Linked DNA regions of Homo sapiens. The protein of the gene in region 2 purifies or fractionates together with the protein of the main gene of each other region. This does not show direct contact. Each region holds a gene or a part of one and is shown on either strand. Other genes may lie near its edges. The genes, in order: KCNH2, ALG10B, VIPR1 and TRAFD1.

The links.
Region 1: the proteins of ALG10B (region 2) and KCNH2 purify together in Homo sapiens (affinity purification with western blotting, with the first as the bait; one study listed by BioGRID). This does not show direct contact.
Region 3: the proteins of ALG10B (region 2) and VIPR1 purify together in Homo sapiens (co-immunoprecipitation; one large-scale study listed by IntAct). This does not show direct contact.
Region 4: the proteins of ALG10B (region 2) and TRAFD1 purify together in Homo sapiens (affinity purification with mass spectrometry; one large-scale study listed by BioGRID and IntAct). This does not show direct contact.

What each region holds. Positions count from the first base shown.
Region 1 is NC_000007.14:150,947,322-150,951,155, reverse strand, and holds part of KCNH2 (voltage-gated inwardly rectifying potassium channel KCNH2), read left to right. Parts: intron 1-35; coding exon 36-235; intron 236-735; coding exon 736-988; coding exon of another isoform or gene 989-1,257; exon of another isoform or gene 1,258-1,747; intron 1,748-2,106; coding exon 2,107-2,300; intron 2,301-2,612; coding exon 2,613-2,712; intron 2,713-3,277; coding exon 3,278-3,550; intron 3,551-3,641; coding exon 3,642-3,828; intron 3,829-3,834.
Region 2 is NC_000012.12:38,317,503-38,325,361, forward strand, and holds part of ALG10B (dol-P-Glc:Glc(2)Man(9)GlcNAc(2)-PP-Dol alpha-1,2-glucosyltransferase), read left to right. Parts: intron 1-758; coding exon 759-956; intron 957-2,658; coding exon 2,659-3,711; 3' UTR 3,712-6,410; coding exon of another isoform or gene 6,411-6,422; 3' UTR 6,423-7,859. UniProt on the Homo sapiens protein: Dol-P-Glc:Glc(2)Man(9)GlcNAc(2)-PP-Dol alpha-1,2-glucosyltransferase that operates in the biosynthetic pathway of dolichol-linked oligosaccharides, the glycan precursors employed in protein asparagine (N)-glycosylation.
Region 3 is NC_000003.12:42,514,349-42,522,207, forward strand, and holds part of VIPR1 (vasoactive intestinal polypeptide receptor 1 isoform 1 precursor), read left to right. Parts: intron 1-4,874; coding exon 4,875-4,982; intron 4,983-7,859. UniProt on the Homo sapiens protein: G protein-coupled receptor activated by the neuropeptides vasoactive intestinal peptide (VIP) and pituitary adenylate cyclase-activating polypeptide (ADCYAP1/PACAP).
Region 4 is NC_000012.12:112,136,687-112,144,545, reverse strand, and holds part of TRAFD1 (TRAF-type zinc finger domain-containing protein 1), read right to left. Parts: intron 3,728-7,859; coding exon 3,322-3,727; intron 2,458-3,321; coding exon 2,251-2,457; intron 1-2,250. UniProt on the Homo sapiens protein: Negative feedback regulator that controls excessive innate immune responses. Regulates both Toll-like receptor 4 (TLR4) and DDX58/RIG1-like helicases (RLH) pathways.

The DNA.
Region 1 (3,834 bases), on a different chromosome or scaffold from region 2:
CAGAGGCTGACGGCCCCACGTGCCCACGCCCCCAGCCCTCATGTATGCTAGCATCTTCGGCAACGTGTCGGCCATCATCCAGCGGCTGTACTCGGGCACAGCCCGCTACCACACACAGATGCTGCGGGTGCGGGAGTTCATCCGCTTCCACCAGATCCCCAATCCCCTGCGCCAGCGCCTCGAGGAGTACTTCCAGCACGCCTGGTCCTACACCAACGGCATCGACATGAACGCGGTGAGGCCACCAGAGCGTGGCCAGTGGGTGGCAGGCTGGGAAGAGTGGGGTGGCAGAGGGGAACCTCTTGGCACAGCAAACAAGTCTCAGGCGGTCACAGTCAGTAGTAAGGACCCTGGAGGCACGTTGCCCCTTTTTGCCCATGAGGAAATGGAAGCCCTTGGAACCCCTTCCCTGGAGAGCTCCCCTTTTGGGGTGGGAGGTATATGTCACATAGGCGATGGGGTTAAATCCTTGTGACAGCCCAGGGCGGGAATGGTCTCTATGCCTTACAAATAAGAACATGGAGGTCTAGAGCCCAAGGGTGCTCGGCCAGGCATGGTGAAGCTGGAGTGGGGTCCCAGGTCCTTCCCAAGACACTGGGCCCCCTGATGCTTCCGAGATCTCCCAGGCCTGGAGGTTGAGATTTCTCTGACATGGAGGGGTGGGATGGTGGAGTAGAGTGTGGGTTGGGGGGTCCCAAGGGAGGGTGTGCTGAGCTGCCCCCACCCTGCCCCCAGGTGCTGAAGGGCTTCCCTGAGTGCCTGCAGGCTGACATCTGCCTGCACCTGAACCGCTCACTGCTGCAGCACTGCAAACCCTTCCGAGGGGCCACCAAGGGCTGCCTTCGGGCCCTGGCCATGAAGTTCAAGACCACACATGCACCGCCAGGGGACACACTGGTGCATGCTGGGGACCTGCTCACCGCCCTGTACTTCATCTCCCGGGGCTCCATCGAGATCCTGCGGGGCGACGTCGTCGTGGCCATCCTGGGTATGGGGTGGGGGGCGGGCACTGGACTGGAAATGCCCTCTGCAGCCTCAAGAGGTGCGAGCCTTCTGAATATGCAGTCACTGGGGCTGTGGACCTGGGACTGCCTGCAGGGTCACTGGGCTCCTTTAATTCACCTAAACTCAGGCCCTCCAAGCGGGGCCATGGAGAGGAGCCCCACGTGGGGTGAGGCTGCTGAACTCTGGGGTTCCCACATTCTCCTTCCCTTCAGGATCCGCCACAAACAGACACTTTTTGCTTCCTTAAAGTAGGATCAAATCTAGATCCTCTAGCCTGGGCAGTAGAGGAAGAAATGCTAGCCTGGAAGCTCGGCATTTGGTTTCACTAAGGGCCATGTGGTTCCCTGCAGCCTCATGCCTGGCCCCTTGACACATCCAAAGCAAAGGGAGTCCTGCCCCCTCCCCCCACTTCCTTTCTACCCTGCCTGTGCACAGTGGGTGGGTTGGTGTGTCTGGACACTGAGGACTTCCTCCCCCTTTGCCTGTCCTTCCCTCGGCCCTGTGTGCCTCAGGGCAGATATAGCAAGCTCTTTCGACCATAGTTGATGGTAGGACATTTTAGACTTTGTTTCTCAGCTCTGTACAAACACAAATACACACCCCCACAAAACTAAAATCAAAGTTTCACTACATAACACTGGGCCTTACTGCATGTGGTTCATTCTAGCATTTCTGTTCTGTGCTGTGCTAAGCTATACTACTGTATGTTCTTTCAGTAAAAAAAAAAAAAAAAAAAAAAAAATGCTGGTTTTGATTCACTACTGTGTTCTGATCTTTGGTTTGAAGAACATTGCTTATAAGGGTGCAGTGATTGGCTAAGAGGGTGTTTGGGACCTGGGGTTTGGGGTAGTCCTGCTGGCTGGGTCTCATTTGCTGGGAGACCCTGGGCTCCTGGCCCCTCTGGCACTGTCGTGCCTGCTGGGAGCTGAGGGAGGGTGGGCTGGCAGATTGCTTCCCCGGTTGTGTGGGTTGGGGGCCGGCTGGCAGGCGACCCAGCTGAGGGGACATGCTCTGCCCGGGGTGGGGATGCCGGGAGAAGGTGCCTGCTGCCTGGATGCCGCCCCCCGGGGCTGAGCTCCCTGTCCTCTCCATGGCCTCCAGGGAAGAATGACATCTTTGGGGAGCCTCTGAACCTGTATGCAAGGCCTGGCAAGTCGAACGGGGATGTGCGGGCCCTCACCTACTGTGACCTACACAAGATCCATCGGGACGACCTGCTGGAGGTGCTGGACATGTACCCTGAGTTCTCCGACCACTTCTGGTCCAGCCTGGAGATCACCTTCAACCTGCGAGATGTGAGTTGGCTGCCCTGAGCTGGACCCCATCCTCCTGCTTCCAGCTGTGTGGCTGCCCCTTTGCTGTGTGACATTGAATGTGATGCTTCTCTGTCTCAGTTTCCCTGTCTGTCAAATGGTATCATAGAGCAGCCTACAAAAGTCCCAAACTCAGTCTTTGCCTGGGGCAAAATCACATTGGGGGCAGGGAAGGGTTTTCCCAGAGCTGGGGCGCCCAGCCCTACTTTTTCTGTGTTAAGGAGGGAGCTTGGGGCCTGACCCCGGTGGGGCAGGAGAGCACTGAAAGGGCCCTGATACTGATTTTGGTTCCAGACCAACATGATCCCGGGCTCCCCCGGCAGTACGGAGTTAGAGGGTGGCTTCAGTCGGCAACGCAAGCGCAAGTTGTCCTTCCGCAGGCGCACGGACAAGGGTGAGGCGGGGGAGGGGAGGAAGGGGGAGGGCGGGGACAAGGTGAGGCTGGGAGCTGGAAGGCGGGGTGGGCCGTGTCTGCTTTACCCAGGCCTCAGACCTTCCCATCCCTTCCTCCAGTGTGCCCACTCCACACCCCAGCTGTCCAGATGCTGCCCATCTTTCAGGGCCCCTGCAGCTGTCACCTCCTCCAGGAAGCCCTCTTCCACCCTCCAGGGCAAGCCTAGGCTTTTTGGACTTCACAGGGCTGGGGTCTCTGTGAGCACTGAGGAGGAAAGAACATAGAACAAAGGAGGGCCAGGGAGCCAACGATGGGGCTGAGGCCCCGCAGTCCCAGAGATCCGCCAACCCCTGAAGCACCATTGCCAGTGCTTGGGCAGTCAGGGGGTCCTGGGAGTTCTTGGTCGGCTTGACAGTGGGTGCAAGATAGCAGAAGAAGCGACTGGGGACAAACCAGGGCTTCCTGCCCAGTCCTCTCTCGGGCTCGCTCCTGTCCCCTCCTCCACCCTCGCCCCCTCCTCTCTGTTCTCCTCCCCTCTCTGAGGCCCATTCTCTGTTTCCCACAGACACGGAGCAGCCAGGGGAGGTGTCGGCCTTGGGGCCGGGCCGGGCGGGGGCAGGGCCGAGTAGCCGGGGCCGGCCGGGGGGGCCGTGGGGGGAGAGCCCGTCCAGTGGCCCCTCCAGCCCTGAGAGCAGTGAGGATGAGGGCCCAGGCCGCAGCTCCAGCCCCCTCCGCCTGGTGCCCTTCTCCAGCCCCAGGCCCCCCGGAGAGCCGCCGGGTGGGGAGCCCCTGATGGAGGACTGCGAGAAGAGCAGCGACACTTGCAACCCCCTGTCAGGTATCCCGGGCGACGGGCGGGCGAGGGAGGACCGGGCGTGGCAGCGGTGGTGCGTCTACCCCGCTCACCCAGCTCTGCTCTCTGGCTGCAGGCGCCTTCTCAGGAGTGTCCAACATTTTCAGCTTCTGGGGGGACAGTCGGGGCCGCCAGTACCAGGAGCTCCCTCGATGCCCCGCCCCCACCCCCAGCCTCCTCAACATCCCCCTCTCCAGCCCGGGTCGGCGGCCCCGGGGCGACGTGGAGAGCAGGCTGGATGCCCTCCAGCGCCAGCTCAACAGGTGAGG
Region 2 (7,859 bases):
TTTATAATCACAAATTCCTTCCCTGGGTATTTTTAGTGAACTATCTGTTGACTGGATAAACTGGCAACCAGTCAAGTCACATCATTTTTGAATATATATTTGACTGTGCAAGTATGTACATATAAATATCAAAATAAACATCCCCTGCTTTTCTGGTGACACAATATAGGGTACTGGCTAGAAATATAAAGTCTGTTTTAGAGAAAGATCTGATCTTAAATCTTGGTGCTGTGATTTACTAGTTTTGTGATCTTGGAGATGTTCTGAGTTTCAGAAATTCAGGTTACTCATCTGCAAAATGACAATAATCTTTACTATAGGGCATATTGTAATGTTACAATACAGAGGGTTTGGCACAATTTCTGTCTCAGTTTATGTCAGCTGTCATCATGGAGCCTGTGGTCCAAATGTTTTCCTAAACTTAGAGTCCCAAACAATGTTTCCATGCTTTTAAAAACTGGAGCATTTGCAGTTTATTTATCAAAATAAAGGCTTTTAAAGAACATTTCTTGGAAAATAGAAATAGATTTTAAGTTGTTGTTTATTGGTTGCTGCTACCTGAACCATCACTAAGCTGGTCCGGGGGCAAAAAATAAGAAAAACTAATCCTGTTCTGCCAAGGACTTACTTAATCTTGTCATAGACTAACTTCTCAAAATTTCTGATTGTTGCTGGAGATGAGACTTGGGCTTGACATATTTGTGTCTGTCTTGTTCGTATTACCTCTTGCTTTTACTTCATTTTCTTTCATTTTAAAGTGGGATCCCATGATTACTACATTACCTGGCTTGTACCTGGTGTCAGTTGGAGTGGTCAAACCTGCCATTTGGATCTTTGCATGGTCTGAACATGTTGTCTGCTCCATTGGGATGCTCAGATTTGTTAATCTTCTCTTCAGTGTTGGCAACTTCTATTTACTATATTTGCTTTTCCACAAGGTACAACCCAGAAACAAGGTATGTTTCAAAATACTTAATTACAAGTTTATGTGTAGTCAGGTCCACAATTACAATGAATTAGTTTTATGAGATTTGGTGAAAAATGTCTTTAACACTTTGTAACTTTGTATTTTTTGTATATTATGTAAAGGTAAATTTAAATTCTCCATCTCCATTTTAGAATAAATTTGTATTTAAATACTTGAATAACTTATTTGTAAACTCTAAAGTAAATATTTGTTAAGTGAGTCAAACCAGTTCAATAAATACTTACTGAGCTTATTCCATGTGCTGGGGACTGGGACTACAGAGATAAATGAGGCAGTCTTTTTCTTGTAAAACGTATATATTCAGTAGGGAAAACAGACTTTACCTGAGGACTTTTGATGTGGTAATAGTGCAGGCCCCGGAGGTCGATTGCCTGGGTTAGAATTCTCTCCCTGCCACTTAACCAGTTTTGTTACTGTGGGCAGGTTAACCCTTAGTGGCTCCATGTCTTCATCTGTTAAATAAGAATAACAATAGAATCTGCCTTATAGAACTGTTATAAAGGAACAAGGAAACTTAATAAATGGAAGATGCTTCAAATAGTGCCAGATATATAGTAAGGGCTCAGTAAATATTAACTCTAATAATTATTTTTAACCTTAAGAGATTATTTCAGTAGTGTCAATTATGATAGAGTAGTAGACATAAGATGCTATGAGGACACAGAGAAGGAGCAGGGAAACACTTACTGCTTTTCTGGGAGGGAGAGGAGTATGTGGCATTCAGTAAGTCCTCACAGAGAAGATGGTACCAGAGCTGAGTCCTGATGAACGGATAGGGCTGTGTAGGGTGAGGAATTAATCCTGGGGAGACAAACAGCATAAGCAAAGGAAGAAAGGCATTGAACAATGAGGTGCAGGGAATTGGTCTTGGAATTACAGGATTAGAAAGTAGAGGGATGTAAGGCTAGAGAAGTAGGTCATGAATGCCCTCATATGTCACAGAGAGGACTTTGAACTTTAGCATGTAATGGAGAGACCTTAATTTTAATCAAGGAAATGACATGGTCTGATTTAGTGATTTAGATTAAGTGGAGTATACAATTCAAGAACATAAGAACACTTTCAAATTCTGAAATAGCATGTCAGAAAGGCCAAAATAAGATATATAAGTTTAGACTGGCTCACTTTTCAGAAAAATACCGTTATTTCATCATGAAAATATCATCTTGAAAAAGTAAGTCTGGATATGGTAAAATAAATACCATATGCATGTTTACATTCTCCCTTGTGTAGTGTTATGAAGGATTTCCTTAAAGGAAAGTGGTGATTATGGCTAAGTGAATCCTTATTGAAGGCACTAAAACATAAGCTCAGGGAAATGGAGCCAGCATTGTGTCCTATTTATCTCCATAGTCCCCACAGAACTTAGTCGGTATCTTGCACTCAGTAACTCCTTAACTAATCATAGCCTGATTCAAATTGTGTTAAGCTATAGAAGCTTTGGCATACACACGGTCTCCAAACTGATAGGTATAAATAAAAAGTACCAGGAAGTGTTCTTATAAATGTTTATTGTGTTTTTGCAAAGCCAGAGATAAGATTAATATTGATTAATTTTATTTAAATAAGGTTTGAGTAGTTGAGTAGTTTTAAATAAATCTCTTCATTAGGTAAGCAGAAATAGCATTTATCATTAAAATAATTGTATCTGTGTTTTTTCTTCCTCCAAGGCTGCCTCAAGTATCCAGAGAGTCTTGTCAACATTAACACTAGCAGTATTTCCAACACTTTATTTTTTTAACTTCCTTTATTATACAGAAGCAGGATCTATGTTTTTTACTCTTTTTGCATATTTGATGTGTCTTTATGGAAATCATAAAACTTCAGCCTTCCTTGGATTTTGTGGCTTCATGTTTCGGCAAACAAATATCATCTGGGCTGTCTTCTGTGCAGGGAATGTCATTGCACAAAAGTTAACTGAGGCTTGGAAAACTGAGCTACAAAAGAAGGAAGACAGACTTCCACCTATTAAAGGACCATTTGCAGAATTCAGAAAAATTCTTCAGTTTCTTTTGGCTTATTCCATGTCCTTTAAAAACTTGAGTATGCTTTTCTGTTTGACTTGGCCCTACATCCTTCTGGGATTTCTGTTTTGTGCTTTTGTAGTAGTTAATGGTGGAATTGTTATTGGCGATCGGAGTAGTCATGAAGCCTGTCTTCATTTTCCTCAACTATTCTACTTTTTTTCATTTACTCTCTTTTTTTCTTTTCCTCATCTCCTGTCTCCTAGCAAAATTAAGACTTTTCTTTCCTTAGTTTGGAAACATGGAATTCTGTTTTTGGTGGTTACCTTAGTCTCTGTGTTTTTAGTTTGGAAATTCACTTATGCTCATAAATACTTGCTAGCAGACAATAGACATTATACTTTCTATGTGTGGAAAAGAGTTTTTCAAAGATATGCAATTCTGAAATATTTGTTAGTTCCAGCCTATATATTTGCTGGTTGGAGTATAGCTGACTCATTGAAATCAAAGCCAATTTTTTGGAATTTAATGTTTTTCATATGCTTGTTCATTGTTATAGTTCCTCAGAAACTGCTGGAATTTCGTTACTTCATTTTACCTTATGTCATTTATAGGCTTAACATAACTCTGCCTCCCACATCCAGACTTGTTTGTGAACTGAGTTGCTATGCAATTGTTAATTTCATAACTTTTTACATCTTTCTGAACAAGACTTTTCAGTGGCCAAATAGTCAGGACATTCAAAGGTTTATGTGGTAATATCAGTGATATTTTGAACTGTAAAAATGGACTTAATAATTAGACCATTTCTACAAAGAACAACTGAATAGGTGGAAAACATGGAATTTCTTTTAGGTGCAGTGGTGGTCCTCAAATTACATTAGTTTTTTTAATATATATTTTAAACATATGTAAGAAATTAAGTGGCAAAGAACTGGGAAAGCTTAAGACCTGCTTCAAAAGCCTGAATAATGGGAAAATAAAATTGTTTTCAGATATCTCATATCGCTCTCGTAATGTTGGCCCCTCACAAAGCTTGGGAATGTTTTGTATGTATAAGTTTATTAAAACTGGGTATGCTTCATATTACTAGAACTAATTTATTCTCTTCAGAGAGAACTATTAGGTTAGTGCAAAAGTAATTGTGGTTTTTGCCATTGAAAGTAATGGCAAAACCACAATTACTTTTGTACCAACCTAATAACAATGTGTTAGCAAATATTTACAAATGGTCAGGTGATATTCTTGACTGAAAAGTTCCTTAACATTTCAGTAAATATAATTTTAATTCTAAGTCAAAATAGAAATGCATAGATAGTAAATGATAAAGTAGAGACTCATATATGTCTGTCTAGGCATCAAATTGTTGGTTATTGTTTACAATCCAGAAATGATGAAGCTCTTTCACTAATTCCTAATATGAAATGTATGATGGCCAAAGACAAATTGTGTTGATTATAATCCTTTAAAAGGGGGATTTCCTTTATGAAATACATATTGTATTAGCTTCCCAGGGCTGCCATAACAAATGACCACAAACTTGGGTGCTTACAACAATTTTCCTCACAGTCTGGAGGCCAGAAGTCTAAAATCAAAGTGTCAGCAGAGTTGGTTCCTTCTGGAGGCTCTAAGGAAGAATCCATTCTATGTCTGTTTCCTAATATCTTGTGGCTGTCTGCAATTCTTGGAGTTCTTTGGCTTATGGGCATATCTTGTCTAAGTATTGCAGACAGCAATCTTCACTCCAGTCTCTGCCTCTGCGTTCACACGGCCTTTCCCTCTGTCTTTTCATTACCTTTTAAGGACAGTGTCTTTGAATGTAGGGCCCACCCTGATCTAGGGTGATTGTGTCTGGAGACCCTTAATTATGTTTACAAAGACCCATGTTCCAAGTAAGTTTGTATTCACATGTTCTGAGTAGACATTGTCTCTTCATGGGATACTTTTCAGTCCATGACAGTTACTAAAGGACATTTTAGGATAATCCTCATATGATTGTTAGGAGACTACCTTTAAAAATTTTTTATTATATATCAAATTATAGTTGTATATACTTATGAGGTACGAAGTGGCATTATGATTTTTGAATATAATGTGGGATGATTAAATAAAGCTAATCTATCCATCACCTCAAATATTTGACATATTTTGTGATGAAAACATTTGAAATGTACTCTCAACAGTATTGAAATGTACATACAGTGCTTAATTATTAGCTGTATTCACCATGTTGTGTAATAGATCTAAAAAAAGTCAAACATATTCCTTCTATCTAATTGAGGCTTTGTATCTTTTGATTGTCATCTCCCTATTCCCACATCCCCGGCCTCTAGCAACCATCATTCTTCTCTCTACTTCTGTGAGTTTAATTGTTTTAGATTACACAAATAAGTGAGATCATGTGGTATTTGTCTTTCTGTGCTTGGCTTATTTCACTTACCATAATGTCCTCCACGATCATCCATATTGTTGCAAATGACACAATTTCTTCCTTTTTAAAGGCTGAATAGTATTTTTTTGTATATATATGCCACATTTTCTTTATCCATTCATCCATGGATGGACACTTAGGTTGATCGAATCACTTGGTTATTGTGACTTGTCTGCAATGAACATAGAGTGCAGACTTCTCTTTGACATACGGATTTCAAATCTTCTGGATAAATAGCCAGAAGTGGGATTGTTGGATCAGGAGATAATATCTTAGCTGATACCTTTTAAATAACTCTCAGTATCTTTACTGAGAGGTTAAAAAATAAGTGACTTCTTAGGTAATATAAAGCTAAAGGTGACTAGTGTTTGATTCCATTATCTATTAAAAAAAGTCAGAATTGAAAGAAAGTTGAGAAATCCTTTGGTCTGACTTTGTAGATTAGGGAACAACTGCTGGGGTAGGATTATTTTGTGTTACTTTTTGAATTTTGTGTTTATTATTTTGAGTGTATTTTTTGGGTTGTCATTCCATTACAGGAAAGTATTATTTGGGCATGTTAACTTTGACATGTAAACTTAGAATTGTGAATAGAACTCATCTTTTAACATAATTTTATGTTTCTAAACTTTAAAAGTAGCTATAAGTGAACAAATTACTTTCCCCTCAATGTCAAATTTTGCTTCTCTGAGTTTTAAGTGATGAGTCTACATTTACAAATATAAAATTGTGTGCAGGTGAAAATTACAAGTATAATTTGAGTAATAAATGCAGGCCATTTTTTGGTTGTACTCTAGTACTCAGAAAATAGATCGGCATTAGTTATAACAGTGATTGTAGAAAAACGTGTTTTACCCAGACTTCTTAAAAATTAGATGAGAGAGGACACTCAAAGAAATTATACTTTTGTCATTAATTTACTATAGTGGAGAACTAAATCTGGGAAGTCAAAATTGAAAAAAGAATGTGTAATTTAGGGAAAGTAACTTTTTGTCTGATAATATTAATGCAAGGATTTTGTATTTAGGAATACTTCTGAGAGGAGAAGCTTCCACTCTGATCTAGTCTGGCAAAATTGAGGAAAATATTCTACCCTGTAATTAAAGAAGACTGCTCTTTGGAGGGATCACTGTTCTATATCTTTTTTTGTTTGTTTTTGTCTTTGAGGAGAAGTCTCGCTCTTGTCCCCCAGGCTGGAATGCAATGGCGCGATCTTGGCTCACTGAAACCTCCACCTCCTGGGTTCAAGCAGTTCTCCTGCCTCAGCCTCCCGAGTAGCTGAGATTATAGGCGCCCACCACCAAGCCTGGCTAATTTTTTCTATTTTTAGTAGAGCCGGGGTTTCACCGTGTTAGCCAGGCTGGTCTCGAACTCCTGACCTCAGGTAATCCACCTGCCTCGCCTCCCAAAGTGCTGGGATTACAGGCGTGAGCCACTGTGCCCAGCTCTTCTAGTTCATTTTTAAGTGTTGAGTCCCTGCTGTTTAAGAGATGTTTTGGTGAAAATCTACATTCAGAGAGAAACAGGTTAATCTTCCACATTTTTTATAAAATACATAAAATATAGTACTTGGCATTTTAAGAAAAGAATGCCATGTATTAAAAGGTGCTATTTTCAACTATTTATTATTTTAAAACAGGAATGCTTATCAATACTTTCGAATTTAAGATAAATGTCTTCGTTAAATTTTCTAGGCAGTTCAAAGATGGCCATTTGCTGGTGAATTTTCCAAAATAGATAACAGATAAAATGATTATGTAAGAACTTGGCACAACAGATCATTTTGCCTTTAGTCGTTCAAGAAATGATACTAAACTCAAAGTCATTCACTTGAAACAACTGAGAAGACCATTCTTAGGTGTTTAGATCCTTGCTTTTAGAAACATTCTTAGTTATATTTGTGTTTTCAAAAGTTATTGAGTAGATAGATATTTTTTCATGAATTTTTAAACATTAGACTTAGCTGAATTGATTAAAATTAGGTGATTATGAAAAAAATATTGCCCTGCTCGAGGGCATCTGGAGCCCTACAGTTACCATTACTAAAGTCTGTGAGTATGTCTATTTTGAAAAGTGTCATAAAAATATCTAGTCCATAAATCATTATAGGTTCAGTAATACATCATTTTGAACTGATTCTATCTTCTGTGAAATTCTAGAGATATGTTATCTTTAGGTAGCATGAGTAAGATTCAGGTATGCTGTGAATTTTGTTAACGTTTATGTTTTCCATTAATGGATAGTCAGGAATCTTTTGAACTGCGTCTATGTATTTAAATGATTTGGAAAGATAGCATCTCTCAGTTTAAACTTAGCATCTCATTTTGGCAAGATAAATTATTTTAGCTGTCTGGCCTTTTCTTTGTCTTCTTAGAGTTATTTCTGAAATGTGCATAGCCAGTCATAAAATAACTTGTGTAAATAGCCTAATGTAATTTATTTCTAATAAATACGTAGCTTAATGAAATGTATTTCT
Region 3 (7,859 bases), on a different chromosome or scaffold from region 2:
ATGTGACCCCCACAGGGACCACATGGAAGCTCAAAGCCATCTTAGTGGTCCCGAGCAAGAAGGGGCACAAGTTTTGTCTGGAAAGATGTGGAATACTCACCACAGCCAATATTCAGCCTGGAAACTGAGGCCCACTCCTCCCTCTCAACCCCAGGCTCTGCCTCTGCTACATCCAGAGGACCGATAGTGACACCACACACACACACACACACACACACACACACATACACACACGCCCAGCCCCTAAGCATACACATACAGGCAAACACACTGGCCTCTCCATCCCAACCCACCCTTAGTGGCCAGATGAACCATCAGCTCATTATTCGGCTGATGAGACAAGTCAAGGTCAGCCCCAGGGGCTGAGCACATGAGGGCCCCAGCCACTCCTCCTCAGGGGGCTGGGAGAGCCCCACCTGGCAGTGTGAAGGGTAGTGCCCAGCTACCAAGACTGGACAGCAGGGCTATCAGGACAGATGACAGCACCCTCCTTTTGACTCAGCAGCCCCAGGTAAGAATGGATGGAATTCTTTGGTACCACTTGAACCAGACTTGGAGGGGTGAGCAGGTTTGGAGAAACAGAGAGTCTGGGAAGGTGGGAGGCACTGAGGCAGACTTCCCATGGGGAGTGGGGCATGGTTGGCAGGTTCAAGTCTTACTGCCAGGGACACCAGCCTGGCATGTCTGGGCTGGAGGCATGAGATGGCTGGGCCCGTTCTGGGCCTCCATCCCAGGCCATCTCCCCGCGGCTGAGCTTACAGTTATGTAACAGCCTTGCTCAGGAGCAGGGAGCATCTTTACGTCTTCCTGGCTCCCTAGTTCCCCTTCCACCTCTCTAAAGCTGACAGTTATGTAACCCCTTCTGGGTCCCTCTTCTTGGCCCTGGTGCCCAGGCTGTCTGCCTCCTGTTCTGTAAGTGAGTATGTGTAGCCTCACAGATGGGCTTTGCCTACCCTTGTCTCAAAGCAGGACAACCCCTTGACTCTAGGGCCCAGAGACTGAGGCATGGGTCACGGGGTGGCTGGGCCTGCCCACTACCTACAGGCCCCACCCCACTCCACCAGTGCAGGGAGCCAGGACCAGGTGCAGACAGGCTTTGGCAGGCCCCAGCGGTGGGATCATAGGCAGCCCCAAGAGGCCCAGACTCTAGACTCCACTGCGCACCTCCCACGCCTGGGGACAGGCCACCCTCGTGATTCCAATGAGGTCACTGCTGGCACAGCGTTCCCGTCGGGTGCCAACACCCTGTCACCAGCAGCCAGGCTGGGATGCAGAGAAGGGCCAGCATAGGTTGTGGCCATGGGTCTGCCCGTGACCTTCTGTAGGGCTCTGTGCGTGTTCATGCACATCTAGGTATGCGCTCCTGGCCCATGTCTGTCTGGAGCTGCGTCTGTGCCTCTGGGGTCTATAGCTCTGTGTCTGACTCTGAGTATCTTTGTGAGTCAGAAGTGTGTGTCTATTTAAGCTTGGGCACATGCCATCTCGACATGCCTAGATGTGTCTGCCCAGTGTGCTGTGTCTCTGTGTGTTGGCTTGTATGTCTATCAGTGTGAATGTCAGTGATACACCCAGACATGTCTGTCTCTCTGAATGTATGTCTCTGTGAGTTGTGTGTCTCTCTGTGCCCATTTGCTTGTGTCTGTGGTCTGTGTTCAGGTAAGTGTACATGTGTGCATGTTTGCATGTGTGCCTGGTGTTCTGTGTACTGGCATGTACATGTCAGTGTGTGTATCTCTGTGTGCACACAAGTCTACAAAATGACACAGCAGAGGCCCCACCTCATCTTGCCTCACCATCCCTTACCCCAAGCTCTGGGTTGGGCTTTCCTGCTGAGGGCACAGCCCCACCTGTGGGCACACACAGCCAGCCTGGGCCCTGTATTTCTGTAGGCCTGGTGACATGTGTGATGGGACCTATGGGGCCTCATTAGGGCAGGCACACAGGAAATACTCCCGTTGCCTAGCCCAGGACAACAGGCCATTCCAGGTACCAAGTATATTCATGGCTGTCACCCCGTCCCCTGCTTCCCTGACCATGTCCCTCATATTGGCCTCTCATCCTGCTCCCCTGCCCTGCTGGCTGCCCTACACCCCAGCACCAGTTCACAGCCCAGCCTTGGTTATGCTGAGATTCCTTGAGGCCAAGTGTGGCCTCCCAAGGGCAGGGCCTGGTTTCCTCTCTTCTGTCCCACTGCAGTGAAGCAGAGCTCAGGGCCAGAGACCCAGCCCCGGATTCACTCCCTGGCCTGTGCTGGCAGCCGGAGGTTTAGAGAGCCCAAAGTCTGGCAGGGACTCAGACACAATAGCCGGCCTACAAAACAGGGCGTGCCCAGTGCTGTCAGAGAGGGGTAAACAAAGTCCAGCAGCAGCAAAATTCCCAGAGAAATGACAGGCCTTCCAACCAAGAGGAGTGGGAATAGACTGTACCGCTTACCAGCAACATGACCTTGAGCTGGTTTTCTAATCAGTCTGTGCCTCCATTTCCTCATCTGTGAAATGGAAGCATTAAATAAGTTATTCATCCAAAGAGGTTAGAACAGTGCCTGGCACATGCAAATGTTATATGAATGTTTGCTGATATTCTTAACAGGGTCTTGAACCCCCAGCAGGGTTTGACTGACCTGAAGTGCCCCTACTCAGCTTTCAGAGAAGCTGGCCCAGAATGGAAGAGGGACTGACAGCCAACATGAGGCCACAAGAGCCCTCAAGACAGGTTGGGGGAAAAGTGGTCAGGGTCCATGACCAAGGAAGGCTGCAATCTCTGGCCAAGCCCTAGGGATCCAGGTGTCCTCCTCAGCCTTCAGCTATAGATGTGGCCTGACTGCTGCAGCCCCAGAAAGTGCCCCTTGCTGCTGCCAGCCCACTCCAATGCACACAGTCCCGAGGCTCTTCCCCAAGTAAACACATCCCTCCACCTCCTCTTCCCAGACCCCCTTCTTGGGAACTTGTGAACCTTCGGACCTGAGCTGGGCTGGGCTGGGCTTGGCCCAGCTGGCGTTGACTTTGGCTCAGGGGTTGGGTTTTCTGAGCAAATCTATGGGACTGGCAGGATTGCAAAGAGACAATTAAGCCTCCTGCATGGGATGGGTCCAGAGCAGTCCTAGTCCCTCACGGGCATGAAGCTTCTGAACAGACTAAATGATGGCATTTGCATGTGCCTATTCAAGCAGACCCCTAGAGACCACACTGTGCATCTTTCACTGGCCAGGCTCTGCAAGGCTGTGGCGGAGAATGCAGCCACAATGCAGGGTTTTCGCTGCACTTGTTCCCTAACTATTCCCCTCCATCACAATTCACAATCCGACCACGTTGGGGGAATCTGTGTTGTTCAAGAACTAGGTGCGGGCTGGGCACGGTGGCTCATGCCTGTAATCCCAGCACTTTGGGAGGCTGAGAGGCAGGTGAATCACCTGGGGTCAGGAGTTCGAGACCAGCCTGGCCAACATGGCGAAACCCCGTCTCTACTAAAAATACAAAAATTAGCCGGGTGTGGTGGTGGGCTCCTGTAATCCCAGCTACTCAGAAGGCTGAGGCAGGAGAATCACTTTAACCTGGGAGGTGGAGGTTGCAGTGAGCCGAGATCATGCCATTGTACTCCAGCCTGGGCGACAGAGCAAGACTATGATGGGGTGATGAGTATATTGGGATGCATCTAGTTCTTTTTTTTTTGAGACAGAGTCTCAAAACATTTTCTAATGCCTCCTTCACTATCATAATATGAAATTCAGGACACGTACCCATCCACTTTATAAAAAATAATGTTCTAGCTATACTGTAAAATAAATATTAAAAGGAAAGTAATTTACAATAAAGTACCATGTACATATTCAAGCATAACCACACTAGATGTAGTCTGAAGGTTGTACCTACAAATATAAATCCTGGGAATGTGAGGCCTACAAATGCAGACTGATGGACACAGGTAGTTGTATCGGTGACTCAAGTATCACAGGCAGCACTGCTATGGGTATCATGATTTTCCAAAACATTGAACAACTCTTAGTGAAGTTCAGAACAAAACAAAATACAATCTTCCCTCCCTTTTCTCAGTGGCTGCATTCCTGGAAAACTCCATGTATGTTAAACTTGTGCAATAAACAGCTTGTGTTGGCCGGGCGCGGTGGCTCATACCTGTAATCCCAGCACTTTGGGAGGCCAAGGTGGGAGGATCACTTGAGGTCAGGAGTTCGAGATCAGCCTGGCCAACATGGTGAAACCCTGTCTCTACTAAAAATACAAAAATTAGCCGGGCGTGGCGGCATGGGCCTATAGTCCCAGCTACTCGGGAGGCTGAGGCAGGAGAATTGCTTGAACCCAGGAGGCAGAGGTTGCCAAGGTTGCACCACTGCACTCTAGCCTGGGTGACAGAGTGAGACTCCATCTCAAAAAATAAGTAAGTAAATGGCGTGTGTTTATACATAAAATGGTGTAAGAGTCTAGGCTCTGGTCATTATGAAAGGTTTTCACCTATACATATGCCCAGTGGCTCATCTGGAAGCCATGCAGAATGTGAGACAATTCATCATTGTGCAGGAGTTGTCTGTCTGGCATCCCTGGTGACTGCCCATCAAATGCCAGTGAGGCCCCCCTATTGCTGCAACAGTCAAAACCACCACTGGCATTGGAAACATCCCCAGGGGGCGCTCCATCCCTCACTAAGGACCAAGGAACTGTAGTCAGGCCTCCTTCCTGCCTCCCTGTCAGGACAGCCCCGTGCAACCTCCGCAGGGCTGTGCCTCCCCTCTCAGACTGGAGGCTCCTTGAGGTGGGAGCCTGGCAGAGGGAGGAAGAGAGTGGGTGCCTATGGCCTCAGGCCCCAGGGCTGGAGGCACCTGCACTGTGCTCACCCATGTGTCTTCTGCCTTACCCCCATAGGCTGCAGCAAGATGTGGGACAACCTCACCTGCTGGCCAGCCACCCCTCGGGGCCAGGTAGTTGTCTTGGCCTGTCCCCTCATCTTCAAGCTCTTCTCCTCCATTCAAGGTAAGACCCCTGGGTTGAAGAGGTGATGTGAGTGGGGCCGGCTGGAGTGGGGACTCACCTCTCAAGGAAGTGGAAAGGCAAAGGAAAGTGGTCAAAGAGGCTGGAGCAATCCGAGGGACTCCCTGGCAGAGGAGGCAATGGTGCTGGGTCTTTAAAGAACTCACAGGATTTGATTAGCTCTTCACATAAAGATAAGCATGTGGGAAAGGCTCACTAAATATTTGCTCAACAATTGATAACTGATTGACTGACAGGTACTTGATTAAATTATGACTCCCATAGTCCTGTTGTCTTGGGCTGGTCTTGATTCAGTCTTTCGATGCCTGGAGCCTATGACCTCTTGGGCTCCATGAAGCCACCACATGACTTTGCTTACACACCTTGTCATGTTCCACTTAAATGAATGTCCACAGAATGAGGCAGAAAAGAAAAGGGGGAGCCCCTTTAGGAGGTGGCTTTCTAGCTAGTGAGTCATTAAAGAGATTCACAATATAGATTCAGTCATTCTTTTGTGCAGTGAATGAAGCACTTACCAGTGTGCCAGGCACTGAGCTGGACAAACACAGTGGAGAGAGGATAAAACAGCCCCCGGGGCTGCTCTCCCAGAGCTAGCATTCTCATTGGAGAGACATTTAGTAAGGAAATAAACAGATGTATCATCAATAATAAAAAGTGCTGGACGAGAGAATAAGGAGAGTGGGGACTAACTTAAGGCAGAGGTTCACAAACAGCCCCTCTCTGAGGAGGTGACACTTCATCTGCAATCTGAAGACCTGGAGGTGAGAAAGAACCACCAGGCAAAGATCCCAGATTGGGGACAACTGAGAGAGAGAATCAACAGCCCGTGGAACAAGCATCCAAGGAAGTTCCGTGAAGGCCAGTGTGGCTGGAGCAGGGAAAGCACCAGGGATGAAGGGAGGGGAGGGACAGGTGCGCCGAGGCCAGACCATGCAGGGCCTTGAGGACAGAAGCGAAGACTTGAGTTTTTTCCTAAGTCCAGTTAGAAGTGGGGGGTTTTAAGCAGGGGACTGACAAAGTCCAATTTAGATTTTTAACGTCTAACTGGTTTCTGTGAGAAGGAAGAATTCTAGGAGTGTAAACAGGAAAACCCAATCACAAGGCAGGCAGGAAATGATGGCTTGAATTCAGGTAGTGAGCTCAGTGCGGGAGAGAAGTGGGAGAGTTGTTTATGGAGGGAATGGGAGTGAGTGAGGCGAGGGAGGAATCAAGCAGGCCCCACCCTAGGCTTAGGTTTAATGAGCCTTAGGGAAGAGAGTGGGACTGGGTGGGGAGCATGGAGGGAGGGGCAGGCCTAGAGTGGGGAGGACTCATGAGGAGCAGAACTTATATAATTATTCAGAGAGCGAACAGAACTCAGGCATCTCTCACTCCAGATGGCCTTTTCCTCCCTGGACCCCAGTTTCCCCGTTTGTAAAGTGGGGATAGGTGGTAGACCCCAGGGTCTCTTTGGGGTAAGCCAGTTTGCCCCCCAGTGCCTGCTGTTGTGACCTCAGTAGTGAAAGATAGAACTTGAAGCCCTCCTGAGGAGTCTGGGAGGGTCACAGCCATGCCATATTCCAGGCCAGTGCCCACCTAGCCTGGTCACCTCCTCCAGGGACACCCAGTGCCTGGGCAGATAAGAGATGAGTTCCTCTGGCAGGTTTCACAGTGCACGCCATCACCAAGCCTGGAAACTAGCCTTCTCTCTGATCCCTGGAAGCACCTGCTAATTGCCTTTCTCCCTGAGACTCTGCTAACTGCATTCCTCCCCATGGCTCTTCCTTCTGTCCCTGCTGGAATGTGTCAAGGCAACTCCTGCCCTTGAGAACCTGGACTCCAGCCCACCATCTAGCTAACCCTGAGGCTGCCGCCATCAATGGGGCCCATACGGTGCCTTTGGACTGACAAGAAAAAGGCAGTCCTTCCTCGGGCAGAGATGACCTCTCACTAGAGCCCACCTAGTGACAAGCAGAATATGCCTACCGGCCAGGTGCCCTTGTAGAGTGAACAACTTGCACAGCCATACTCTGTGGGCCTGGTCTCTGAAAATGGTGGAGAGAAATAAGAGACTGCGATTAGGGACTGAAAACAGAAAAAAGACAGTGTTCTCCTGAGCAAGTAGATGAAGAAGTTGTGGGCAACCGACCTGAAATTCCAAAGAGGGAAGTTTGCAAGTGTGAGGCAGGAATGATGGCATCACCAACTCACACAACAGGCCTGGGAAGAATTATATCCACGGGAAGGGACCTGGTTATACAGGGAAAGCTAAATAAACCTTATAGAAGATAAAAATTGTGGAGAGTTAGAAAAAAGTCATCTACCTAGACTGGATAAAATACCTGAAGGAGGGAGTTTGGCCAGGCAAGGAATTGCTCATTAAGACATCAAAATGTTCATGGTAGCTCACTTCTTTATTTTTATTTTATTAATGTTTTGAGATAGAGTCTTGCTCTGTCACCCAGGCTGCAGTGCAGTGGCACCATCTTGGCTCACTGCAACCTCCGTCTCCTGGGTTCAAGCAATTCTCCTGCCTCAGCCTCCCAAGAAGCTAAGATTGCAGGCACCAGCCACCACACCTGGCTAATTTTTGTATTTTTAGTAGAGACAGGGTTTCACTGTATTGGCCAGGCTGGTCTTGAACTCCTGACCTCATGATCCTCCCACCTCAGCCTCCCAAAGTGCTGGGATTACAGGTGCATACTTCTTTAATCTGTAGTCTGCATATCTTTCATCTGTGTTTCTACCTTCGAATATATATATATATATATATATTTTTTTTTTTTTTTTTTTTTTTTTTTTTAGACAGCGTCTCGCTCTGTCCCCCAGGCTGGAGTGCAGTGGCACTATCTCTGCTCACTGCAACCTCCGCCTTCCGGG
Region 4 (7,859 bases), about 74 Mb from region 2:
TAATCCCAGCACTTTGGGAGGCCAAGGTGGGTGGATTACCTGAGGTCAGGAGTTCCAGACCAACCTGAGCGACACGGTAAAACCCTGTCTCTACTAAAAATACAAAAATTAGGCGGGCATGGTGGTACAAGCCTGTAATCCCAGCTACCCTGGAGGCTGAGGCAGGAGAAATCACTTGAACCCCAGAGGCGGAGGTTGCAATGAGCCAAGATCGCGCCATGGCACTCCAGCCTGGGCAACAGAGGGAGACTCTGTCTCAAGAAAAAAAAAAAAAAAAGTCCAGGCCAAAAGCTTAAAGTTACCCCTAATGGTAGTATCTCTATGTGCCTGCCAGAAGCATTTATAAATTCTCAGAGGAACATGCTAGAAAACTTGGTGTTCACACACACACGTAGCAAGCCTCCATGAACAGGAGACGCAGAAACAACATAGCAAAGAAACAGTTTTTGCTATTTTTGGACACAAAAGAAAAATAAGTATATTTAACATGTTTAAAGACATGTTAAAGAGGGAACTATGCTGGGCGCAGTGGCTAATGCCTGTAATCCCAATCCTTTGGGAGGCCGAGGTGGGGCAGATTGCTTGAGTTCAGGAGTTCGAGACTAGCCTGGGCAACATGGTAAGGAACCATCTCTACTAAAAATACAAAAAAAAAGGTAGTGGTGCATGCCTGTGGTCCCAGCTACATCGGAGACTGAAGTGGGAGGATCACTTGAGGCCTGGGGGCGGAGGCTGCAGTGAGCCGCGATCACACCACTGCACTCCAGCCTCGGTGACAGAGCAAGATCCTGCCTCAAAAAAAAAAAAAAAAAAAAACCAAAGCGGGAACTGTAATATGACTATGGAACAAAAGATTATTTTAAAAATTAGGAGGTACAATGAGGAAAAGGATCAAACAGAACTCAAAATGAAATATATAATCACTAAGTGAAAATCTTAAGGGACACATTAAACAACAGATTAGAAATAACTACGGAGAAAAATCAGTGAACTAGAAGACCGATAAGAAATTACCCAGAATGGCTGGGCGCAGTGGCTCACACCTATAATCCCAGCACTTTGGGAGGCTGAGGCAGGTGGATCACCTGACATCAAGAGTTTGAGACCAGCCTGGCCAACATGGCGAAACCCCGTCTCTACTAATAATACAAAAAATTAGCCGGGCATGGCTGGGCGCAGTAGCTCACGCCTGTAATCCCAGCACTTTGGGAGGCCGAGGCAGGCGGATCACGAGGTCAGGAGATCGAGACAATCCTGGCTAATACAGTGAAACCCCGTCTTTACTAAAAATACAAAAAATTGGCCGGGTGTAGTGGTGGGCGCCTGTAGTCCCAGCTACTCGGGAGACTGAGGCAGGTGAATGGCGTGAACCCGGGAGGCGGAGGTTGCAGTGAGCCGAGATCGTGCCACTGCACTCCAGCCTGGGCAACAGAGGAAGACTCTGTCTCAAAAAAAAAAAAATTAGCCAGGCGTGATGGCACATGCCTGTAATCCCAGCTACTCAGGAGGTTGAGGCAGGAGAATCACTTGAGCCCAGGAGGCAGAGGTTGCAGTGAGCCGAGATCGTGCCATTGCACTCCAACCTGGGCAACAAGAGCAAAACTCCATCTCCAAAAAAAAAAAAAAATGTTCAGAATAGTATAGCAAATACCCATATACTCCTCATCTATATTCACAAAGCTTAATATTTCCTCACATTACTTTTATGTATTTTTCCCCTGAACTATTTGAGAATAAGTTTGAACACATAACATTTTATTCCTAAGTACTTCATCATGTGCCTTTGAAGAACAAGGGCACTGCTTTCTCCTATGTAAACAATACGGATGTCACTCTCAGCAACTTTAATGTAAGTTCTCTACTTGTACAATAATGTCCTTTAGAGCCTTTTTTTTTTGAGACAAGGTGTCACTCTGTCACCAGGCTGGAGTGCAGTGGCACAATCTCAGCTGACTGCAACCTCTGCCTCCTGGGTTCAAGCATTCACCTGTAATCCCAGCTACTTGGGAGGCAGAGGCACGAGAATCACTTGAACCCAGAAGGCAGAGGTTGCAGTGAGCCGAGATCATTACATTGCACTCCAGCCTGGGTGACAGGGCGAGACTGTCCCAAAAAAGAAAAGAAAAAAGAAACAAAAAAGAGTAAGGCAAATTCTATTTCATTAAAATCTTTCAATTGTATAAGAATTGTATAACCTAAGACTTACAAAAACTGTAGAGAAAGAGGCTAGTGCAGAATAAGCAAGCCTACCCTTTATGTCACTGAGAGACCTGGGACCGCCATGAGACTGGTCGGCCTCACATACGGCCCTCCAGAAGTCCTGCTCTGCCACACTGGAGGCTTGGCCTTCATTTTGCAGACTTAGGGCCAACATGAAGTCCAAGTTTGCACTCTCTTCACCACCCTCTTTGGGGGGCTGTTGGCCTCTATTCCTTTCCTGCCTCTCTTGTTCTTCAACTGAAAAAAAAAAACCAACCAACATTCAGGATACATTAGAAATGTTACCACCCTCAACTCAAGTCCATGCCTAGCAAATAGTCAAGGTTTACAGGCATCCGGGAAGGAATAAAAATGACCATGTTCAACTAGCTCTCTTCACCCTCTGGGTCTCCTAGCTTTGAACATTAAAGTCTGCCCTGTGAAAAGGCTCCATTATTATTCTAACTGTATTATTAAGCAATATTACTGAGCCATAATTATGAGACAGGCACTGTGCTAAACATTTTATACTTATTTTCTGAATTACAGTAGAATGGTTTAAAGCACGAGGTCAGATTATCTGAATTCAAATCTCAGTTCTACCTTCAAATTTACCTACCTTCAAATAATGAGAGAATTAAATGAGTTAATACGTATAAAGCACTTTGCAAATGCCTAAGGGAAATAAGATACAGGTTGAGCATACCAATCCAAAAATCCAAAATTTGAAACTTTTTGGGCATCAATATGGCTCTCAAAGAAAATGCTCACTGGAACATTTTGGATTTCAGATTCTCAGATTTGAGATGCTCATCCAGTATATATAATGCAAATACTTCAAAAGCCAAACCACTTCTGGCCCCAAGTATTTTGGATAAGGGATACTCAATCTGTATAAGTGTTGGCTATTTACAACACTGTCATCATACTCACCATTATGAACCCTAACTATAATCCAATGGAGGTTATTTCCATTTTATAGGAAAGAGAGGTATTCTTCCCAGTGTTACTCAGCTACAGTCGGGTTTCTATAATCAAGATCTATCTGGCCCCAAAGCCCTGTTCCCATTTGCCTTGGGATTTTGATACCATTCTAGTTCCCTAATCCCAAGCACAACTCACACAGATTATTCTGAATTGAAACCTGGGCTGTAATGTTCCTTTGGTTGGTAGTTCTATTGTGGAAAACATCTGATTCAAAGGCTCTCAGGGGCCTTCGCGGCAGCCTCATGGGTGGGTCCAGAGCCTCAATTTGTCTGAGGAGTTGGGATGCAATCCAGATTCCATCCTGACCCCAAGATTCATCATATGCATTAGGAGGTATGGCAACCTCATTTCTCTTTTCCTCCCCCTCTCTCCCACAAACTTCAGGGTGAGTCTTCAGATCTTTCACAAGGACATTGCGACCACAGTTGCCACATAGTTCCGTCCGGGCACCACAATAATCTTCATGTTCCTTCAGTTTGAGAATGGAAAGTTCTAAATCACAGTGCTGGCAGACAGCAAGCCGCAAAGGGCACTCAGTCTCCTACAAAACAGAGGAATGAGGCAGTTAATATGCATATCTAGGAGAGGTGTGTTTTAGTATAGGGCAAGGAAAGCCAAGAGTATCTACTGCAATCTTCTCTTCCAACCCTTGATTCTCCTACCCTTTTTTAATGTATTTAATTATTTAAGAGTCACAGCTTCCCCTTTTGTTCCTGCCACAATGTTCTATAAAGGAAAATAAAATATTAGAGGGAGCCCACTACTCAGCCACCCTAACTATCATATTGTTTTGTGCACACATTACTTAGTAATCTAAAACCAGCCAGAGAAGCCCAGGAGCAAATAACAAGAATCATAGCAAGTCAGATGTTTGTCAAAGCTCCAATGTCCCTGTCCCCTACCAACTATTCCAATTCAGTCTTTTTTTTTTTTTTTTTTTGAGACAGTGTCTCGCACTGTCGCCCAGGCTGGAGTGCAATGGCGCAATCTTGGCTCATTGCGACCTCTGCCTCCCAGGTTCACACGATTCTCCTGCCTCAGCCTCCTGAGTAGCTGGGATTTCAGGCACACACCACCACACCCACTTAATTTTTTGTATTTTTAGTAGAGACGGGGTTTCACTATGTTGGCCAGGCTGGTCTTGAACTTCTGACCTTGTGATCCGCCCGCCTCAGCCTCCCAAAGTGCTGGGATTACAGGCTTGAGCCACCACGCCCGGCCTCCAATTCAGTCTTAAGTACCTAATAATGAGGAAAAGAAACTGCACTTTAGAAAGACACAGGTTTCTCTAACCTTCATATTTGTATTTAGCACAGGCTTTATTTTTCATTTATTATTATTATTTTTTGAGAAAGTCTTGCTGTCGCCCAGCGACAGAGTGGTGTGCATGGAGTGCATGGTGCAATCTCAGCTCACTACAACCTTCACCTCTCGGGTTCAAGCAATCCTTGTGCCTCAGCTTCCTGAGTTGCTTGGGACCACAGGTGCGTGCCACCACACCCAGCTAATTTTTTTGTATTTTTAGCACCGAAGGGGTTTCACCACGTTAGCCAAGTTGGTCTCAAACTCCCATCCTCAAATGGTATGAGCCACTACTCCTAGCAAATCCGTGTTATTTATCTAATAAAAGAACTTTGGGACCTGGGCAATGGCCCACGCCTGTAATCCCAGCACTTTGGGAGGCCAAGGCAGGCAGATCACCTGAAGTTAGGAGTTCAAGACCAGCCTGACCAACATGGTGAAACCCCACTCTACCAAAAATACAAAAATTAGCAGGGTGTGGTGGCATTCACCTGTACTCCCAGCTACTCGGGAGGCTGAGGCAGGAGAATTGCTTGAACCCGGGAGGTGGAGGTTGCAGTGAGCTGGGATAACACCACTGCACTCCAGCCTAGGTGACAGAGTGGAAAACAAAAAAAAAAAGCTTTTGAAAAAAAACTTTCTGAATTGGCATTATATCTACATGGTATCAAATTTTATTTTTTAATTTTAATTTTTCTTTTCTTTTTTTTGAGACAGGATCTCAGTGTCACCCAGGCTGGAGTGCAGTGGTACGATCATGGCTTACCGCAGCCTTGACCTCCTGGGCTCAAGCAATCCTCCCACCTCAGCCTCCCAAGTAGCTGGGACCACAGGTATATGCCATCATGCCTAGCTAGGTTTTTTGTTTTATTTTTTATTTTGTAGAGACAAGGGTCTCCTTATGTTGCCCAGGTTGATCTCAAAACTCCTAGGCTCAAGCAGTCCTCCTACCTTGGCCTTCCAAAGTGCTGGGATTACAGGCGTGAGCCACTGTGCACAGCTGGTATACAATTTTAAAGCCCAAAAAGGATATATGTAAAAATCATGTCTCTTCTCCCCTGTTCCTCTGCTACCTAAGGCCTTTTTATCAATTTATTGTGTTTCCTGCAAGAGGTAGTTCATGTATATACAAACAGTGCTGAAAATGTTGGAGTAGCATTTAGAATAGAACTTTAGTTTAATTTTTTTTTTTTTTTTTTTGAGACGGAGTTCGCTTCTGTTGCCCAGGCTGGAGTACAATGGCATGATTTCGACTCAGTGCAACCTCTGCCTCCTGGGTTCAAGCAATTCTCCTGCCTCAGCCTCCCAAGTAGCTGGGATTACAGGAGCCTACCACCACACCTGGCTAATTTTTGTATTTTTAGTAGAGATGGGGTTTCACCACTTTGGCCAGTCTGGTCTTGAACTCTTGACCTCATGTGATCTGCCTGCCTCAGCCTCCCGAAGTGCTGGGATTACAGGCGTGAGCCACCACGCCCAGCATTTTTTGTTTTTGTTTTTGTTTTTTTTTGAGACAGTCTCACTCTGTTGCCCAGGCTGGAGTGCAGTGGTGTGATCTTGGCTCACTGCAACCTCTGCCTCACAGGTTCAAGCAATTATCCTGCCTCAGCCTCCCGAGTAGCTGGAATTACAGGCATGCGGCACCATGCCTGGCTAATTTCTGTATTTTTAGTAGAGATGGGGTTTCACCATGTTGACCAGGCTGGTCTTGAACTTCTGACCTCAAGTGACCCGCCCTCCTCTGCCTCCAAAAGTGCTGGGATTACAGGCTGAGTCATTGCGCCTGGCCTACCTTTTTATTTTTATTTTTATTTTTTTGAAACAGGGTCTTACTTTGTCGCCTAGGCTGGAATGCAGTGGCACAAACAGGGCTCACTGCAGCCTCAACCTCCAGGCTCAAACAATATCGTACCTCAGCCCCTCGAGCAATTGGGACTACAGGAACGGACCACCATTCCCAGCTAATTTTTTAGTTTTTTGTAGAGATAGGGGTCTCACGATATTGCCTAGACTGGTCTTGAACTCTTTGGTTTAAGCAATGCTCTCGCCTTGGCCTCCCAAAGTGCTAGGATACAGGCATGAGTCACTGTAGCCCGCTGTGAATTACCTTTAAGGGTAATTTAATTATAAATTAATAAAATCAAGTTGTTACAGTTTGAGGCACACAGAATGAAATGCACAAATCTTTAAGTATATACCTTGGTGAATTTTTACATATGTATATCCACTCTTCTATAACTACCATATAAACAGCTGTTTGGATTTTTATTTATTTATTTTTATTTATTTATTTTTTTAGACGGAGTCTCGCTCTGTCGCCCTGACTGAAGTGCAGTAGCGCAACCTCGGCTTACTGCAAGCTCCGCCTCCCGGGTTCACGCCATTCTCCTGCCTCAGCCTCCCAAGTAGCTGGGACTATAGGCGCCCGCCACCACGCCCAGCTAATTTTATGTATTTTTAGTAGAGACGGGGTTTCACCGTATTAGCCAGGATGGTCTCAATCTTCTGACCTCGTGATCCGCCCGCCTCAGCCTCCCAAAGTGCTGGGATTACAGGCGTGAGCCACTGCGCCCAGCCAAGAAATGAAGATCAAGGCTGAGGGATGCTCCCTACTGAATGGGAAAACTGTCCTTGGTTCCACATGGGCTGTAGACACAGCCCTTCTGCCAGCAACTGTTCCTGCAAGGAACTTGTGCTCAACTGAACAAACTGTCACGTGGTTCCTTGAAGGGGCACAGCACTGATTTCACTTGCATTATAAAAGACTGAGTGGTGCTTTTGACTGTTTATGTCAACACTTGAAAACAAGGTGAGCCAGTTTTTTTTTGTTTGTTTTAGATGGAGTCTCACCCTGTCACCCAGGCTGGAGTGCAATGGCACGATCTCGGCTCACTGCAACCTCCACCTCCCAGGTTCAAGCAATTCTCCTGCCTCAGCCTTCTGAGTAGCTGGGATTTCAGACGTGCGTATCCACGCCCAGCTAATTTTTGTATTTTTAGTAGAGACGGGGTTTCACCATATTGGCCAGGCTGGTCTCGAACTCCTGACCCTGTGATCCACCCACCTCAGCCTCCCAAAGTGCTGGGATTACAGGCATCAGCCATCACGCCCGGCTGGATTTTTAAATTGGTGAATTAACATACTCATTCAACGTTGGCCAGTTTTGGCCAGATGCCATAGCTCACGCCTGTAATCTCGACATTTGGGAAAGCCAAGAAGGGAGGATCACTTGAGGCCAAGAGTTCGAGACTAGCCTGGGCAACATAACAAGACCCCAACTCTATGAAAAACAAAAATAAATAAAATTAGTCAGGCATAGAGGCCTATACCTGTAGTACCACCTATGCAGGTAGATCATTTGAGCCCAAGAA